2 separate regions of the Homo sapiens genome follow, and region 2 is linked to region 1. Evidence: fine-mapped expression QTL. A gene starts in region 1. The other region holds a variant in brackets. All regions are shown on one strand. Distances are between the middles of the regions.

The links. PIP is the estimated chance that this variant, and not a neighbour inherited with it, causes the effect.
Region 2: its variant is the best candidate, but not a certain one, in a credible set for the expression of CARNS1 in whole blood (INTERVAL, PIP 0.65).

Annotation. Positions count from the first base shown.
Region 1 is chr11:67,413,805-67,418,323 of GRCh38, forward strand. It overlaps CARNS1 (carnosine synthase 1), which reads left to right and starts at 1,874. Exons shown (of 10, transcript NM_001166222.2): 1 at 1,874-1,959; 2 at 2,372-2,398; 3 at 3,603-3,873. The coding sequence starts at 2,396. RefSeq lists an enhancer at 2,612-3,447.
Region 2 is chr11:67,219,025-67,223,024 of GRCh38, forward strand. KDM2A (lysine demethylase 2A) reads left to right here. Exons shown (of 21, transcript NM_012308.3): 10 at 264-379. It overlaps LOC124902839 (small nucleolar RNA U13), which reads left to right and starts at 1,884; the gene lies at 1,884-1,992. RefSeq lists an enhancer at 3,234-4,000. The variant C/A (reference allele first, on the strand shown) is at 1,553.

The sequences.
Region 1 (4,519 bases):
TTTTTTTAAAGAGATAGGGGGGCCAGGTGCAGTGGCTCACACCTGTAATCCTAGCACTTTGGGAGGCCAAGGTGACCAGATCATGAGGTCAGGAGATTGCGACCATCCTGGCCAACATCATGAAACCCCGTCTCCACTAAAAATACAAAAATTAGCTGGGTGGGCTGGGCGCGGTAGCTCATGCCTGTAATCCTAATACTTTGGGAGGCTGAGGCGGGCAGATCACCTGAGGTCGGGAGTTCGAGACTAGCCTGACCAACATGGAGAAACCCTGTCTCTACTAAAAATACAAAATTAGCTGTCATGGTGGCGCATGCCTATAATCCCAGCTACTCCAGCCTGGGCAACAAGAGCGAAACTCCATCTCAAAAACAAAACAAAACAAAACAAAACAAAAGTAGCTGGGCATGGTGGCTCGCACCTGTAGTCCCAGCTACTTGGGAGGCTGAGGCAGGAGAATCACTGGACCCGGGGAGGCGGAGGTTGCAGTGAGCCAAGATTGTGCCACTGCACTCCAGCCTGGTGACAGAGTAAGACTCTGTCTTAAAAAAAAAAAAAAAAAAAAAAGGGATAGGGTCAAAAAAAAAAAAAAAAAAAAGAGAGAGAGATAGGGTCTCGGCTGGGTACAGTGGCTTACACCTGTATTCTCAGGACATTGGGAGGCCGAAGCAGGAGGAGCACCTGAGGTCAGGAGTTCAAGACAAGCCTGGCCAACACGGCGAAACCCTGTCTCTACTAAACACACAAAAATTAGCCAGGCGTGGTGGCGTGTGCCTGTAATCCCAGCCACTCAGGAGGCTGAGGCAGGAGAATCACTTGAACCTGGGAGGTAGAGGTTGCAGTGAGCTGAGATCACACCACTGCACTCCAGCCTGGGCCGACACACTGAAACTCTGTCTCAAAAAAAAAAAAAAAAAAAAAAAAAGCGGAGCGAGCGAGAGAGATAGGCTCTCACTGTATTGCCCAGGCTGGAGTGCAGTGGCACAACCAGGACTCACTGCAGTCTCGACCCCCGGGGCTCATGTGATCTTCCCACCTCAGCCTCCCAAGTAGCTGGGATTACAGGCCCACACCACCTCAACCAGCTAGTTTAAATTTTTTTTTTTTATAGAGACAGGGTCTTGCTATGTTGCCCAGGCTGGTCACAAACTCCTGGGTTCAAGCAATTCTCCTGCCTCAGGCTCCCAAAGTGCTGGGATTATAGGCAGCCACCGCACCAGGAGAGGCTGGATCTTATAGACATCCTGGCCCCTGTGTGCAAGTCCACTGGGTCCAGAAGTGAGGAGGGGGCTGCACAGATGTGTGGAGACCCTGGCCCAGGAGGGCCTCTCTGGGAGAACGTGCAATAGGGCAAAGCGCTGGCAGCTGGGACAGAAAGCTGCAGGGCTGGGACCTCCGGCCTCCATCCAAAGGTAGGGCTCAGGGCTGTGTGCTCCAGGCTGCTCTCCCGGGCACCCCACCCCTAAGGGCGGGCCCTAGTACCAGTCTCTGCCTGCTCCGGCTCTCCCCGCCCCTCCTTTCCATCTCTTCTCCATGGTGGGCCTCCCTCTTTCTTCATGGCAGCCCTACGTCTGTGACCCTCGACGACAGTCCCTGTCCATCTGTACCTGGCCCTCTGTCGGGACTTCCTCTGTGTCTCTGAAGACCCCCGTCTCTCCCTGCCTGCTCCGTGCCCTCCTCCTGCTGGGTCCGTGTCCCGCCACACGCCCCCAGGTCTGGGACGTTTTCGTGGCTGACGGGCGGGGGGGGGGGGGGGCGCGTCCCCGGCGGGTCCCTATCGGTCCCTGTCGGTCCGTCCGCCCCGCGCCGCCCCCGCTGGGCACTGGGCATGCCCCAGGCGTTTCTATATAAAGCGGCGCCGCTTGGGCCGGGCGCTGTGCCACTGCCACCGCCGCCGCCGCTGCATCCCGCCCGGTCCGAGTCCGCCCGCCACGCCCGCCGAGCCGCTGCCGCCGCCAGGTACCCCAGCTCCGGCCCCGCCCCGGGGAGAGCCAGGGAGGGGGGCGGCCGGGGCAGGAGTCGCGGGGACGAGGACCCCGGGCGCCCGCTCCCCGCGGCGGGACCCTCGACGCTACGCCCCCCACCCCCGGGACCCGGTGCCCCCAACTCCCCCCCGCGCTGGAGGGGCAGAGCCAAGCCCGGACCCCAGGGCAGGAAGGACCTGTGAGCCGCACTGGGGCAGGAGCCACTCGGTCTGGGCAGCAGAAATCCCTCCCTACCTTCGGGGTGGGGGTGGGGCTGCCTTGGCCTCTCTCTGCAGGGACAGGTGTCGGCCACCTCTCCACTCCCAAAGTCTAGGGGCTGGAAGGCCAGGCAGGGACTTGGCTGCCCTGACTCCTTCGTCTCTCTGTCCCTCTGTCTCTGCCATCAGTCTCTCAGCCACTCCACCCACGAGATGGTGAGTCTTCTGTGGTCCCTCCCCCACAAGGCCCAAGTCCCTGGGCAGAGAGTGGGCCCAGAGGACAGCAGGCAGCACCTAGGACCTAAGCCTGGGAGTTGCCCCCTGCAGACAGCTTAGACCCACGACCAGCTCCCCCACCCCCACCCTGCGGCTGCATCCTGGGAGGTGGGCACTCTTAGTGCCCTGTGACATTCATTCATTCCATGGCCCCTCAGGGAGCTCACCTTCTAGGAGACGGCACAGAGGCTCTGGCCCTGGCAAACTGGGATTCGAGCCCAGGCATGAGGCCCAGTCCTCTGCCGTCTGGGCCACAGCACACCATCTCCCAACAACCAAGAGATTCTCTTCGTCCCAGCCTCATCAGCCCCCAGGGGATGGGAGAGGGCAGGCACCAGGCAACAAGGTCCAAAGAGACCTCACGACTTGCTCAAGGTGGCCGAGCCTGTCCCCTGGAGGACAGACTCAGCTGCCAGGCCTGTCCAGGCCTGGGGACTGCAAAGAACAAGAATTCCATTCACACGAAGCCTCCCAGCAGCCCCATATTGGGGGGGCGCCAGCCTCAGAGAGGGGAGGGACGTTAGGTTTCATCCAAAGAAAGCATTTCCGTGACTCAAAATATCTGCAGGGGGGATACTGTCTAGCCTCCTAATGTTTAGCCCAGGGCTGGGCACACAGTAGGGCTTCAAGACCTACGTGGGGATGACAGTGGAATCACATTTAGGTGTCAGCACACTCCATGCCGGGTCATGAGACAGAAATAAGCCACCTCAGAGTGATGGCTGGGTTCGTTCATTCATCTACTCTTCAGTCAACAAACACTTACTGAGAAGTGGCTGTGTGCCAGGCACGCTTTAGGTGCTGGGGTTGCCTCCATGAACAAAACAAGCAGAAAACTCTGCTGCTGTGAAGCAAGCTAAGGCGGAGCCCAGCATGGCAGGGGCGGGAGGGGCTGGCTGGCAAGACATTGCTTCCTGCCCTCCCCCCAGGGGCACCACACAGAACAGTTTACAAAGCACTCCCACGGTTGCGTTCCCATTAACAAGCCTTCGCCCCCAACACAAGCCTTTCCTCTCCTAGTCCCCGGGACGGTGTCAGCCCTGAACATAGCCCAGGCTGGGAGAGTGGGGGGCTTACACCCTTGGGTGACTTAATGTGCCCACTGGCCCACCCTGCCCAAGACCTACCACTTCTGCCCTCTCAGCTCTCCCTGGATCCATCGGGTCCCGAGTGGGATTGCCCACTGGGCTCCAAGGACCTGGAGGAAGAGGGCCCCTGGGGAGGGGGCTCTGGCCTGCCGCCCACAGGCTGCTTCCCTGGCTCCTGGCGCCAGGACGTGGGCCTGGACTGCAAGGGATCCCCCGAGGGGGCCGAGGCCCGGGCTTGGACTGTCTACTACTACAGCCTCCTGCAGAGCTGTCTGCAGCAAGCTGGCCTTCCGGAGACTCAGGACCGCGGCCAGGTGCCCCGCACAGGTGCCCAAGGGCTCCCTGGAGGGAGGCACCTCTGGGGGCAGGGAGGGGCCCTCAGCCCAGTCTGCTTGCTCATCCCTGTCAAGGTCGGCCCCTTCCCCTAGGCTCTGGTTCCATCTGAAGGCAGGGAAGGCACAGCCAGTTGGCCTAGGGTAGGCGGACATTGTTTGCAAGGGCATCTGGCACCAGTGAGGTCAAGGATTGGGCTCCCTGCCCTCACCCCCTCCCCAAAAAGACCCAGCCCTGGGATTGGGAAACCACGTTGTGTGGCACCGAAGCTTCTAGAGAAAGGTCTTGGGAGCTGTGGTGGAGGCAGCTCAGCAGCTGAGACCCCCCAGACTCCTCCCCTTCTGCCCCTCCACGCCTGTTACATATATCAGACTTTGTGTGGACAGAGGGTTCACAGGCAGAATACCTGAGAATCACAGACTTGGTCCCATTGTACAAACTTGGAAACTGAGGCTTGGAGGAACACTGACTCCTCCAAGGTTACACAGAAAGTCAGAGCTCGGGCTAGAACTCAGGTCTCCAGTCACCTAGCCCACAGCACCTCTGGAACAGCTGCAGAAAGGGGAAACCAGCTTCACGGGGCAGGACTGGCGGGCACCTCCATTCCCTGCCTGTCCCCTGTCTCATCCGATTCCTGGGA
Region 2 (4,000 bases), 200 kb before region 1:
TTGGTGCTCCAGTAAACGTTTATTATGTGCTAAGCATTTGATGTGCATTTTCTCATTTAATGCTCATGAGCAACCATAAGAGGTATTATTTATCCTGGTTTTATAGAGGAAATTGAGGCTTTGAGAGATTAAGTAACTTGACAAACCACTAAGAAGCAGAATCAGAGTGAAGAGTGTGATCTAGGGGTCTTGTACTAGTTCTCTGAGAGAGACTTACTGTAATGTGTGTTTTCAGCCACTGCCCTCTGTTCCCCTTCTCCTAGGCTGGATTCATGCTGTGTATACTCCTACAGACACATTAGTGTTTGGGGGCAATTTTTTGCATAGCTTCAACATCCCTATGCAGTTAAAAATATACAACATTGAAGATCGGACACGGGTAAGTAATCTTATGTAACAGTTGCATGTGAAGAGGTTTACTCCAGTTATGATAGATGTTACAAGAGATTCACTGATGGTTTATCAAAACTTCCATTTTTCTTTCAGTTAAAATGCAGTGTTGACATTTTGGGAACACACAAAATTTTAAATTTAATTTTTTTTTTTTTAAGGCAGAATCTTGTTCTGTTTTCCAGGCTAGAGTGCAGTGGCGTGATCATGGATGATTGCAGCCTCAACCTCCCAGGCTCAAGCATCTTCCTGCCTCAGCCTCCCAAGTAGCTGGGACCGTGGGTGCACACCACATCTGACTAATTTTTAATTTTTTTCGTAGAGACTTGGTCTCACTGCGTTGCCCAGGCTGGTCTAGAACTCCTGGTTCAAGCAGTCCTCCCACCTCAGCCTCCCAAAGTGCTGGGATTACAGGTGTGAGCCACTGCGACTGGCCAAATAAAAATTTTAACACGATTTACATACTCCGTTTTAGGGACTCCAATTCTGTGAGGTTTTTGGTATCTTGGATTTCTTTTTCTTTCCTTTTTTTAAAATTTTATTTTATTTTATTTTATTTTTTAGCCAACACCATAGTGAATGGGAAAAAGTAACATTTTTTTCTTTTAATATTTGGGACAGAGTCTCACTCTGTTGCCCAGGCTGGTGTGCAGTGTCACAGTCATGGCTCACTGCAGCCTCAACCTCCCTGGGCTCAGTTGATCCTCCCACCTCAGCCTCCCAGGTAGCTGGGACTACAGGCACACGCCACCACATGCAGCTAATTTTTTTGTATTTTTTGGAGATGGGTTTTTGCTGTGTTGCCCAGGCTTGTCTTGAACTCCTGGGCTCAAGTGATCTGCCCGCTTTGGCCTCCTAAAGTGCTGGGATTACAAGTGTGAGCTACTGCATCCCACAGTATCTTGGATTTTTATAAGGCCAGACATTTACCTCTGGTAATCTCTTGAGCCATGTGTTTCATTTTTATGCTCACAGAATAATTTGGTGTAATGGGGCTTATCAACCCAAATTTCAGAACTTTAAATTCATGTATCTTTTTCTACACTGATGACTATACTCAAAGCATCTTACTTTAATTATATAAATGTATATACTGTCTTTCTCAACTGGGGTTTCAAGAGAGAATTAAGCCCAAAATAAAATAATTTGTGTATCTTATTTT[C/A]TCATTTTTCTCTAGGATGATACACAGCTAATACCCTTCTAGATGCATAGAAAAAAGTTAATTTATTATATACAATGGATACCTTAAGGCAAGAGTTGACAAACTTTTCCTGCAAAGGACCAGATAGTAAATATTTTAGGCTTCGTGGGTCATAAAGTGTCTATTGTAACTGTTTAACCCTACCTTGTAGCATGAAATACTTAAACAAATGAGTGTGGCTCAAATAATATAAAATTTTATTCATAGACACTGAAAGTTGAATTTCAGATAACTTTAACATGTCACAGAATACTCTTAAATTTTTTTCAACCATTAAAAAATGTAAAAAACGATCCTTTTATATAGTTCATGATCATGATTAGGTGTTCATGCACGTATGTGAAAGATGCCACCCTTGAACCTTGTTACTATTAATACGTCAGCACATTACCTGTCTGACCCGAAAAAAAAAAAAAAAGGTAAAAAACACTCCTAGTTCACAGGAATCATAAAAAGAGGCAGCAGGCCAAATCCACTAAGTGTTGTTTGCTGGCTAGCCTCCACCTTAGAGAATGAGAGCTTATTTTTTAGCAGAATTCTAATTGGTAAGGGCTGAATCATATATGAAAGTATAGATGATACTGGGATTAAACAGCAATTAGAATATTTGGGGGTTGTGATGTTTGTAAGTTACTCTCAAGTAGCTTAGCAGAATACTAAGCTAGTATGGAGATGAGCAGATGTGGAGAAATGTTAACAGTTGGAGAATTGCAGAGAAGAGTGTAGAACTATTAATGCTACTGCTCTTGAAACTTTTTGGTAGAATTAAAAGTATTAAAAATTTTAAAATAACAATTAATGAAGAATTCACAACTTTTATATGAATGGTCTTTTATATATTATAGGAATGGTCACTGACCTATGTACTGCAATAATAGTCAACCATTATGGTGCCTATTTTGCAACATTTATTTTGGTGTAGGAGTTACGTATCACTATACACATCATTGATATTATTGTTGGAGTTACAGGAATTGCCCTACTAGTAGAATTAAGAGAGGAAGCCAGTGCTTCTTCAACACATTTTATAAAAGTACATTTCTTTTTATTTGTTAAGAGTAACAAAAGTACAGTTCAGGCACAGGGGCTCATACCTGTAATTCCAACCCTTTGAGAGCCCAAAGTGGGAGGATTATGTGAAGCAAGGAGTTTGAGACTCTCCTGGGCAACAAAGCCGGGTGTGGTGGTGCATGCCTGTAATCCTAGCTACTGGGGAGGCTGAGGTGAGAGGATTGCTTGAACCTAGGAGTTCCAGGTTGCAGTGAGCTATGTTGGTGCCACTGTACTCCAGCCTGGGTGGAAGAGTGAGACACAGTCTGTTAATTTAAAAAAAAAAAAGATGTCTATTCTAAAATAGGTAAATATTCTAAAATAGGGAAAATGTTTCAAAAGAAAAAAAATGTATAATTCCATAGTAAAATACTCCTGTTTAACTCTGTCATTCTTTTTTTTTTTTTTTTTTTTAATTTATTTTTTTATTGATAATTCTTGGGTGTTTCTCACAGAGGGGGATTTGGCAGGGTCATGGGACAATAGTGGAGGGAAGGTCAGCAGATAAACAAGTGAACAAAGGTCTCTGGTTTTCCTAGGCAGAGGACCCTGCGGCCTTCCGCAGTGTTTGTGTCCCTGATTACTTGAGATTAGGGATTGGTGATGACTCTTAACGAGCATGCTGCCTTCAAGCATCTGTTTAACAAAGCACATCTTGCACCGCCCTTAATCCATTTAACCCTGAGTGGACACAGCACATGTTTCAGAGAGCACAGGGTTGGGGGTAAGGTCACAGATCAACAGGATCCCAAGGCAGAGGAATTTTTCTTAGTGCAGAACAAAATGAAAAGTCTCCCATGTCTACTTCTTTCTACACAGACACGGCAACCATCCGATTTCTCAATCTTTTCCCCACCTTTCCTGCCTTTCTATTCCACAAAGCCGCCATTGTCATCCTGGCCCGTTCTCAATGAGCTGTTGGGCACACCTCCCAGACGGGGTGGTGGCCGGGCAGAGGGGCTCCTCACTTCCCAGTAGGGGCGGCCGGGCAGAGGCGCCCCTCAAAACTCTGTCATTCTTAGAGGTAATTATGTACCCATTCTAAGATTCAGTCTGAAAATTGGTTTTTAGAATGTGTTCCCTTTTTATGGTTAAAGATGACTCTTACACCTGGGTCTTATACACTGGTTCAGTTTCAGGGAAGAAAAGGAAAATACATATTCAGTAACATAAAGTGAGTACCTTATCCCCTGCATGAAGAGTTTTCTACGTAAAGAGAAGAAAAATAAGGGGGAAAAAAAAAAAAGGCCAGGCACAGTGGCTCACACCTGTAATCCCAACACTTTGGGAGGCTAGGCAGGCAGATTACCTGAGGTCAGGAAGTTGAGACCAGCGTGAGCAACATGAAGAAACCCTGTC